3 linked regions of the Homo sapiens genome follow. The protein of the gene in region 1 interacts with the protein of each later gene in a pairwise test. Each region holds a gene or a part of one and is shown in the gene's direction. Other genes may lie near its edges.

Region 1 (3,500 bases):
AGGGTTTCACCATGTTGACTAGGCTGGTCGTGAACTCTGGGCTCAAGCAGTCCACCCACCTTGCCCTCCCAGAGTGCTGGGATTACAGGCATGAGCCACTGCGCCCAGCCTGACAATGGCATTTAAAAGATGTCATGGCTATGTAAAAAAATGTTTCCACTGTTGTACGTACACATCTGCACATGCAAGAAAATTTCTCAAATCTTTCTTCCTTTTCTTTTCTCTTCTCTTCTTTCTCTTCTTTTCTTTTCTTTTCTTTTTTTGAGACAGGGTCTCACTCTGTTGCCCAGGCTGGAGTGCAGTGGCGCGATCTCGGCTCACCACAACCTCTGCCTCCCGGGTTCAAGTGATTTTCCTGCCTCAGCCTCCCTAGTAGCTGGGACTACAGGCGCCCGCCACCGCACCCGGCTAATTTTTGTATTTTTAGTAGGACGAGGTTTCACCATGTTGGCCAGGCTTGGTCTTGAGCTCCTGACCTCAGGTGATCTGCCTGCCTCGGCCTCCCAAAGTGCTGGGATTACAGGTGTGAGCCACTGCATCTGGTCAAATTTCTCAAATATTTCTATTGTGATAAAATGTATGTAACACAGGCTGGGCGCGGTGGCTCACGCCTATAATCCCAGCACTTTGGGAGACCGAGGTAGGTGGATCACGAGGTCAGGAGATCAAGACCATCCTGGCCAACATGGTGAAACCCCGTCTCTACTAAAAATACAACTAATTAGCTGGTCATGGTGGCGTGTTCCTGTAATCCCAGCTACTCAGGAGGCTGAGGCAGGAGAATTGAACCAGGGAGGCAGAGGTTGCAGTGAGCTGAGATCACGCCACTGCACTCCACCCTGGCGACAGAGCAAGACTCTGTCTCAAAAAAAAAAAAAAAAAAAAAAGTAACAAAGCGTACCATTTTAACCAGTTTTTAAAATTAAAAAAAAATTTTTTTTTTTTTAGAGATGGGGGGGGTCTCACTTTGTCACGGAGGCTGGAGTGCAGTGGTGCAATCCTAGCTCATTGCAGCCTCGAACTCCTGGAGTCCAGTGATCCTCCTGCTTAGTGTCCTGAGTAGCTGGGATTACAAGGCATGTGCTATTGTGCCTGGCTAATTTTTTTTTTTTTAATTTTTTGTAGAGCTGGGGTCTCACTATGCTGCCCCGGGCTGGTCTCGAACTCCTGGCCTCAAGCAATCCTCCTGCCTTGGCCTCCCAAAGTGCTGGGATTACAGGCGTGAGCTACTGCGCCTGGCCCATTTTAACCATTTTTAAGTGTACAGGTCAGTGGCATTAAGTGCATTCACATTGCTGTGTAGCCATCACCACCGTCTGTCTCCAGAACTCTTTGCTCATCCCAACTGAAACTCTCTACCCATTTAACAATCACTCCCATCCCCACAGTCCCTGGTAACCACCATTCTACCTCATCTCTGTAAATTTGACTATTCTAGGCATCTCACATAAATGATAAATGGAGGCATACAATATTTGTCTTCTTTGACTTATTTTACTGAGCATATGTTGAACGTTCCTCCATACTGTAGTATATGTCAGTACTGCATTCCTTTTTGTTGCTGAGTAATATTCGTGTGTGTGTGTGTGTGTGTGTGTGTGTGTCTAGACCACATTCCGTGTATTCATCTATTCGTAATGGACACTTGGGTTGTTTCCATCTGTTGCCATTGTGAATAGTGCTGCAGTGAACATTGGTATACAAGTATCTGTTTGAATCCTACTTTCAGTTCTTTTGGGTATATACCCAGGAAGTAGAATCTCTGGATCATACGGTCATTCTATTTTTACTTTTTTGAGGACTACCAAACGGTTTTCTGTAGCAACTGCACCATTTTATATTCCCACCAGCAATGCACAAGGATTCCAATTTCTCCACATCCTTGCCAACATTTGTTATTATTTATTTATTTATTGAGATGAAGTCTCGCCCTGTCGCCAGGCTGGAGTGCAGTGGCGCGATCTCGGCTCGCTGGAACCTCTGCCTCCCGGGTTCAAGTGATTTTCCTGCCTCAGCCTCCCGAATAGCTGGGACTACAGGTGCCTGCCACCATGCCCAGTTAATTTTTTTAATATTTTTAGTAGAGACAGGGTTTCACCGTGTTAGCCAGGACGGTCTCCATCTCTTGACCTCGTGATCTGCCCGCCTTGGCCTCCCAAAGTGCTGGGACTACAGGCATGAGCCACCGCGCCCGGCCTAGGGTTTTTTAATATATTCTAGATATTAATCCCTTATCAGATATGTGATTTGCAAATATTTTCTCCTATTCTGTGGGTTGTCTTTTCACCCTCTTGATCATGCTCTTTGATGTACAAAAATTTTAGTTTTAGTGAAGTACAATTTATCTTTTTTTTTTTTTTGTCTGTGCTTTTGGTGCTATATCCAAGAAATCTTTACTAAATCCAGTGTCATGAACATTTTTTCCCTAGATTTTCTTCTAAGAGTTTTAAAGGGTTTTTTTGTTGGTTTGTTTATTGTTTTTTGAGGCAGGGTCTCATTTTATTGCCTAGGCCGGAGTGCAGTGGCGTGAACACGGCTCACTGCAGCCTTGACCTCTCCAGCTCAAGTGATCCTCCTGCCTCAGCCCCACAAGTAGCTGGGACTACAGGCATGCGCAGTCAGGCCCAGCTAATTTTTGTATTTTTTTGTAGAGACAGGTTTTCACCGTGTTGCCTGGGCTAGTCTTGAACTTCTGCGCTCTGGTGATCCACCTGCCTCAGCCTCCCAAAGTGTTTCAGATTACAGGTGTGAGCCACTGCAACCGGCCAGGTTTGAGCTCTTAAGTTTAGATCTCTGATCTTTATATACTTATTATTATTTTTTTTTATAGAGATGGAGTCTTGCTGTGTTGCCCAGGCTGGTCTTGAACTCCTTGGCTCAAGCAAACCTCCCATGATGGCCTCCCAAGGTGCTGGGACTACAGGTATGAGCTACTGCACCTGGCCTCTTTACTTTTCAAATTAAACTTTTTATTTTGACATAATTATAAATTCACATGCCGTTGCAGGAAATAATACAGAGATCCTAGGTGCCCTTGGGTTTTGTTTTTTTATTTAGCATTTAGTCCATTTACATTTAATGAAATATGATACATTTGGGTTTAATCTGCTATCTTACTCTATATATTCAAATTGCCTATTCTCTGTTCATTTTTCTCTCTAGTCTTCTTTTAGGTTAATTTTTATTATCCTATTTTTCCTCTTCTATTAGCTTGAAAGTTATATGCTCTTTTCTCAGTTTTAAGTGGTCACCCTAGAATTTAAAGCAGGCATTCATGTTGTACCAAAGACTAATGATAATGTGTACTTTACCTTCTTCCTGGACAGTGCAAGGATCCTAACACACTTTAACTCCATTTATTGTTGTCATTTGTTTTAATTATTTCTGTTTTAAATCACACAACCCATTGTTTTGTGCAGTCAGATATTTAGATTTTCACCCTTATAGTCACTGTATTTGTTGTTCTTCGTTCCTTCTGGAATCTGACTTTACATCTGGAT
Region 2 (3,500 bases), on another chromosome or scaffold:
GCACTTCGGGAGGCCGAGGCGGGTGGATCATGAGGTCAGGAGTTCAAGACCAGCCTGGCCAATATGGTGAAACCCCGTCTCTACTGAAAATATAAAAAATTAGCCAGGCACGGTGACATATGCCTGTTGTCCCAGTTACTCGGGAGGCTGGGGCAGGAGAATCGCTTGAACCCGGGAGGCAGAGGTTGCAGTGAGCTGAGATCACACCACTGCACTCCAGCCTGGGCAACAGAGTGAGACTCCGTCTCAAAAAAAAATAAATAAACCGGGGAGGGGGATGACCAGATTCTTATAGTTCCCAGGCTAGCCAAGGAGCCAGACGCGTACTTGGGCAGTTAGAGTCTAGGATGGGGAACGCAGGCACTGACTCATGCGCTCATTCAACAGATATATTGAGGCTGGGCGTGGTGGCTCATGCCTGTAATCCCAGCACTCTGGGAGGCCAAGGCGGGTGGATTGCCTGAGGTCGGGAGTTCGAGACCAGCCTGACCAACATGGTGAAACCCCGTCTCTACTAAAAATACAAAAATTAGGTGGGCGAGGTAGCGCGTGCCTATAATCCTAGCTGCTCGGGAGGCTGAGGCAGGAGAATCACTTGAACCCGGGAGGTGGAGGTTGCAGTGAACTGAGATTGCGCCACTGCACTCCAGCGCGGGCGACAGAGCAAGACTCCATCTCAAAAAATAAAAATAAATAAAAATAAAAATAAATAAATAAATAAATAAATAAATGAGAGAGAGAGAGCGAGCCAACCGTGGGCCGGGTCCTTAACCACAATGCACAAGTGTGGGGAAGTGAAGAGGCCATGGGTAGGAGCCCAGAGCAAACCACCTGCCCTAACTTGGGAGTTAAGGAGGAAGACACCCTGGAAGAGATGATGCTAGACAGAGAGACGGTGGGGGCTGGGGAGGGGGACCCCAGCAGAGGGAATCACATGTGCCAAGGACAGCAGTCAAGAAAGGTCATCTTTTGGCTCCAGCTCGAGTTCCTGGGGTTCCCATAGGGTCCGCCGGGCCTGGGGTTTGGAGGCCCAGCTCAGCAGGGTACCCCCATCCCAGGACTCATCGCTGCCCCACCCACCTGTCTCCCACAGACGGGCACCCTCACTGAGGACGGCTTAGACGTGATGGGGGTGGTGCCCCTGAAGGGGCAGGCATTCCTGCCCCTGGTCCCAGAGCCTCGCCGCCTGCCTGTGGGGCCCCTGCTCCGAGCACTGGCCACCTGCCATGCCCTCAGCCGGCTCCAGGACACCCCCGTGGGCGACCCCATGGACTTGAAGATGGTGGAGTCTACTGGCTGGGTGAGGAGGCCAAGCAGGTCAGCCCCCTGCCTCTGGGCAGTGGGGCCTAACGAATCCCACCCTGTCTTCCCTCTCCATCTTTCAGGGTGGTCTCTTATTATGCCCACCATTAATAATAATAGGCCAGGCGCAGTGGCTCACACCTGTAACGTGGCTCCCGGCGCTTTGGGAGGCCAAGACGGGAGGATCACTTGAGCCCGGGACCCCAGCCTGACCTACATGGCAAAACCCCATCTCTGCCAAAAATACAAAAATTAGCCGGGCGTGGTGGTGCATGCCTGTAGTCCCAGGAGGCTGAGGTGGGAGGATTAATTGAGCCCGGGAGGGCGAGGCTACAGGGAGCTGTGATCACGCTACTGCACTCCAGCCTGGGTAACAGAACGAGACCCTGTCTCAAAAAATAATAATGATAGGCCAGGTGCAGTGACTCATGCCTGTAATTCCAGCACTTTGGGAGGCTGAGGTGGGCAGATCACCTGAGGTCGGAAGTTTGAAAGCAGCCTGGCCAACATAGTGAAACCCCGTCTGTAATAAAAATACAAAAATTAGCCAAGTGCGGTGGAACATGCCTGTAGTCCCAGCTACTTGGGAGGCTGAGGGCAGGAGAATCATTTGAATCCGGGAGGCAGAGGTTGCAGTAAGCCGAGATCACACCACTGCACTCCAGCCTAGGTCACAGAGTAAGACTCTGTCTTAAAATAAAAGTAACATAATAATAATGGCAAGGCCTCAGGCTGAGTGCCTACTATGCGCCAGCGCACGGCCACAGAGGCCTGGTCTCATTTCCTCTTCCCCAAGCCCTAGCAAGCAAGCTCAAATGTTGCTTCACGGATGCTGAGGCTGGGAGATTTGGAGTGACGTATTCCAGGTCACCCAACAGCTTGTAAGTAGCAAAGCTAGAGTTTGAATTTGAGTCCACCGGGCTCCAAAGCCCACATTCTTAACCCACCATTCAGTCTCCCATGAAGGAAGTCTTCCCTGAGTCTAGCTCAAATCTCTCTGTGAGCCAAAGCCCCCAGACACCAAACTTCCCTGCCTGCCTGCCAGGTCCTGGAGGAAGAGCCGGCTGCAGACTCAGCATTTGGGACCCAGGTCTTGGCAGTGATGAGACCCCCACTTTGGGAGCCCCAGCTGCAGGCAATGGTGAGCTGAGGGGGGCCTGTTGGGTGCAGGGCAGAGGGGTGGGCTCCCCAGCCAGCACCTCAGCTGCCTCTCCAACCCTGCAGGAGGAGCCCCCGGTGCCAGTCAGCGTCCTCCACCGCTTCCCCTTCTCTTCGGCTCTGCAGCGCATGAGTGTGGTGGTGGCGTGGCCAGGGGCCACTCAGCCCGAGGCCTACGTCAAAGGCTCCCCGGAGCTGGTGGCAGGGCTCTGCAACCCCGAGACAGGTGCAGGGGGAAGCCCCTGAGTCCCCCTGGTTGGGCATTGGCACAGAATGGGGTGGGTACCCAGCCTCTGTCCCTGCCATCCCCTCCTTGTGACACCTGCCTCTCCCTGGCAGTGCCCACCGACTTCGCCCAGATGCTGCAGAGCTATACAGCTGCTGGCTACCGTGTCGTGGCCCTGGCCAGCAAGCCACTGCCCACTGTGCCCAGCCTGGAGGCAGCCCAGCAACTGACGAGGTGGGCCTGTCTCCTGTCCCACCCACTCTGAGGACTAGGCAGAGGGAGGCTCTCACGCAGGCAGAGCCCAAGGAAGATGCCCTGCCTGGTGGCTGGGAGAGGGGCCCTGGCCACTGCATGACCTCTGATCCAGGTCTGCCCACCCTCCAGGGACACTGTGGAAGGAGACCTGAGCCTCCTGGGGCTGCTGGTCATGAGGAACCTACTGAAGCCGCAGACAACGCCAGTTATCCAGGCTCTGCGAAGGACCCGCATCCGCGCCGTCATGGTGACAGGTACAATGGCATGTAGGGGCCCGGGCTAGCAGGGCAGAATCCGCCCCTTCCTGGCAGAGAAGAGGGGCACCAGGGATTCCTTTTTGGGGCATCTTTTTGGGCCCTTGCTTCAGGCCAGGTCCTTTTTAAACATTTCGTGAATCTTCACAATATCCCCCCCGCAAGTGGTAATTGTCACCCCTGTTTGACAGATGAGGAAACTGAGACTCAGAGGAGTGGAGTGACTTCCAAGGAACCCATGTGCGCTGTCAGACAGCCTGGGTTCCAGGTGGCACCTCTGAGAAATGGGGATAATGATGTCAGCC
Region 3 (3,500 bases), on another chromosome or scaffold:
GGGTTGGAGAAATGATGTTTACAGGCAGAAAGGATGAGGATTTGGTGCCTGTCGGTAATTGGAGGAGGCCATCACAGGTCTAGGGGAAGACACTGAGGTCAGTTTGGGACACAGTGAGTATGAAAGGGCTCAGAGGCCATCTAGGGGAGGCATCCAGGATGCTGCTGGTGCATGGAGGTCTTGAGTTCTGGAAAAAAGTGGGACTCTATAGACAGATGAGGACACGTGTCATCTCTAGAGACAGGAACTGAGGTCATGGAAAGTAAAATGGACAGGGAGAGAGGGCATGGAGGGAGAACAAAGTGGCCCTGGACTGAGCCCTGGTAATTGATGTCAGATTTGAAGGGGTTAACAGTAAGAGGAGCTTGAAGAGGAGCTGGTGGAGTTTTGAGAAAAACCAGGAGAGCATGATACGGCAGAAGCCAAGAGAGGAGCATTTCTCCAGGGAGGGCATGGTTGGGGTGCCAGATGCTGCTGGGATGGTAGGGAATACAGAATGGCCACAGAATTAGCAACAGGGGTGGCCAGTGATCTTCGTGAGCAGTGTGGACTAGAAACAGAGATGGGAGTCACTGTCACAGAGATGTCCACCACCGCCAAGGGAGAGGACGAGATGGCCTTGGGGAGTTGTAGAATGGGAAGAGATGGGCCAGGTGCTGTGGCTCACACCTGTAATCCCAGCATTTTCGGAGGCAGAGGCGGATGGATCACCTGAGGTCAAGAGTTCGAGACCAGCCTGGCCAACATGGTGAAGCCACGTGTCTACTAAAAAAATACAAAAATTAGCCAGGTGTGGTGGCGCACACCTGTAATCTCAGCTACTCAGGAGGCTGAGGCAAGAGAATTGCTTGAACCCAGGAGGTGGAGGTTGCAGTGAGCCAAGATTCTGCCATGGCACTCTAGCCTGGGAGACAGAGTGGGACTCTGTCTCAAAAAAAAAAAAAAAAAGAGAGAGAAAGAAATGAGGCCCAAGGACCAAGCTTCATCAAGCTATTATAGTTAAAGACTCGGTGGAAAGTGAGCAAGAGGTCTAGTGCAGGGAGAAGCCCGGGTCAACTCCCAGGGTTGCTTGGGTGGCTGGGGAGATGGCAGTGCTGTCGCTGAGATAGGATGGTAACCAGAGAGGCCAGGCTAGAGTGAAAGGGATATATGCAGAGCAAAGTGGGCTATGATTGGCCAGGCCAATCTGAGGTCAGATTTAGGGTGAGGAACTTGGTTTTTGGATTTTTGGGGTAGCAGAATTCTGGTGCTACAACCCTGCCTGACCCCTGTAGGTAGACGAAGAGCGGCGGAGTGCAGCGGGCAGTGAGAAAGAAGAAGAGCCTGAGGACGAAGAGGAGGAGGAAGAGGAGGAGGAATACGATGAGGAAGAGGAGGAAGAAGATGATGACCGACCCCCCAAGAAACCCCGCCATGGAGGCTTCATTCTGGACGAGGCTGGTATGTCATAGTGCTTGGCCAGTGCCGAGCAGAGGCTGAGCTTCTACTTTTAGTTCCATTTCTTTTTCTTTTTTTGAGGCGGAGTCTCGCTCTGTCGCCCAGGCTGGAGTGCAGTAGCATGAACTTGGCTCACTGCAAGTTCATGCCATTCTCCTGCCTCAGCCTCCTGAATAGCTGGGACTACAGGCGCCCGCCACCACGCCCGGCTAATTTTTTCTATTTTTTAGTGGAGACGGGGTTTCACCTTGTTAGCCAGGGTGGTCTCAATCTCCTGACCTCGTGATCTGCCCGCCTTGGCCTCCCAAAATGCTGGGATTACAGGCGTGAAGGACCAAAGTTCTTAACTTTTCTCGTGCTACGGCCCCTTCTGTAGTCTGGTGAAACCCTGTTCCCTTCTCAGAATCATCTTCTGAAATGCATAAAACAAAATACATAGGATTCCAAAGAGGACAATTTATTGAAGTACAGTTATCAGAATATTTAAAAAGAACATTTTGGTGCATATGTTTCTTTGTTAACATATTTAGGTAATAAGACTTTGTAGGTAGTCTGAGAATCTAATTTTCAAGTAGCAGTGAGTGTAAATGCTGCCTTGAGATACCTATAGCTGTAATGTGCTGTGAAAGAGCCAGTGACACAGCTAACATTGTGTGGTTTGTTGCCATTGTATGTAATTGATGTAAATGCTAAATTTCAATTCCAGGTTACTGAAAATAGGAGCTGTAGTTTTTTCATCGAACACAGACCACCCCAGATGAAAAATCTCTGTTCTACGTGTTAAATCCCTGTTAGTCAAATTGCTAGGTAAAGGTGGTGCATTTTGTTGTTGTCGTTGTTTTTTTTTTTTTTTTTGAGACGGAGTCTCGCTCAGGCTGGAGTGCAGTGGTGCGATGGCTCACTGCAACCTCTCCCTCCTGGGTTCAACTGTTTCTCCTGCCTCAGCCTCCTGAGTAGCTGGGACTACGGGCACGTGCCACCATGCCTGGCTAATTTTTTATATTTTTAGTAGAGACAGGGTTTCACTGTGTTAGGATGGTCTCGAACTCCTGACCTTGTGATCCGCCCGCCCTGGCCTCCCAAAGTGCTGAGATTACGGGCGTGAGCCACCATGCCTGGCCGCACTTTTTTTAAAAAAAGATTTTTTATATTTACGGCCAAATATCAGTTCCTAAAAAGATAAGACTAGTTCATACTTCCATGATGATAATGAATGTGCATGTTTTCCCTTACCTATGGGAAGAGGGGTTACTTAGAACACATCCTGCCTCTGTTTTCCTGGGACTGTTTTACCTGAGAAGAAAAGTAGTTTATTGTCAAAGGGACAGGAGGTGCTCTGGATGTTCTTGGAGAGCAAGAGAATGGATACCATGCTGGGTAAAAGCTGTGGGTTCCCAGGGACACCCATATGTTGGTGGTGGAAGTGTTGGTGGGCACTGCCTGTGTGGAAGGCTGTGTGGCAGTGCCTGTTAGCATTTAACATGCAGGAACCCTTTGACCAAGCAGTTCCTCTTTAGAATTTACTTTATGGTTAAACTTGCATGAGTGCATGAAGACCTGAGAACAAAGATGCTTGTTGTAGTCCTGTTCGCAGTTGCAAAAGTTTGGTGACCTAAATGTTTATTGATGATTAGGGCCTGGTTAAACAAATTATGGGCCATATAGTATATGAGGCATGTGCTGCTGTGGGAGAGCTCTGAGTTAGTAGTAGTTTTGAGAAAAAGAAAGGTACAGAACGGTGTGTTAAAAAAATTACGTGGGGGCTGGGCGTGGTGGCTCATGCTTGTAATCCCAGCACTTTAGGAGGCTGAGGCGGGTGGATCATCTGAGGTTAGGAGTTCGAGACCAGCCTGGCCAAGATGGCGAAACCCTGTCTCTACTAAAAATACAAAAATTAGCTGGGCGTGGTGGCGGGCGCCTGTAATCCCAGCTACTTGGGAGGCTGAGGCAGGAGAATTGCTTGAACCCGGGAGGTGGAGGTTGCAGTGAGCCGAGATTGCTGCACTCTAGCTTGGGTGACAGAGCAAGACTCGGTCTAAACAAAAAAAATTACATGGGGGGAA

Evidence for each region. Proteins that work in one complex are often made in the same cells at the same time.
Region 2: the proteins of LMAN2 (region 1) and ATP13A2 interact in a two-hybrid assay, tested with the Homo sapiens proteins (one study listed by BioGRID and IntAct).
Region 3: the proteins of LMAN2 (region 1) and SUPT5H interact in a two-hybrid assay, tested with the Homo sapiens proteins (one large-scale study listed by BioGRID and IntAct).

Annotation. Positions count from the first base shown.
Region 1 is NC_000005.10:177,341,669-177,345,168, reverse strand, and holds part of LMAN2 (vesicular integral-membrane protein VIP36 precursor), read left to right. Parts: intron 1-3,500. UniProt on the Homo sapiens protein: Plays a role as an intracellular lectin in the early secretory pathway. Interacts with N-acetyl-D-galactosamine and high-mannose type glycans and may also bind to O-linked glycans.
Region 2 is NC_000001.11:16,991,429-16,994,928, reverse strand, and holds part of ATP13A2 (polyamine-transporting ATPase 13A2), read left to right. Parts: intron 1-1,093; coding exon 1,094-1,300; intron 1,301-2,347; coding exon 2,348-2,443; intron 2,444-2,526; coding exon 2,527-2,686; intron 2,687-2,799; coding exon 2,800-2,920; intron 2,921-3,070; coding exon 3,071-3,195; intron 3,196-3,500. UniProt on the Homo sapiens protein: ATPase which acts as a lysosomal polyamine exporter with high affinity for spermine. Also stimulates cellular uptake of polyamines and protects against polyamine toxicity.
Region 3 is NC_000019.10:39,452,082-39,455,581, forward strand, and holds part of SUPT5H (transcription elongation factor SPT5), read left to right. Parts: intron 1-1,274; coding exon 1,275-1,440; intron 1,441-3,500. UniProt on the Homo sapiens protein: Component of the DRB sensitivity-inducing factor complex (DSIF complex), which regulates mRNA processing and transcription elongation by RNA polymerase II.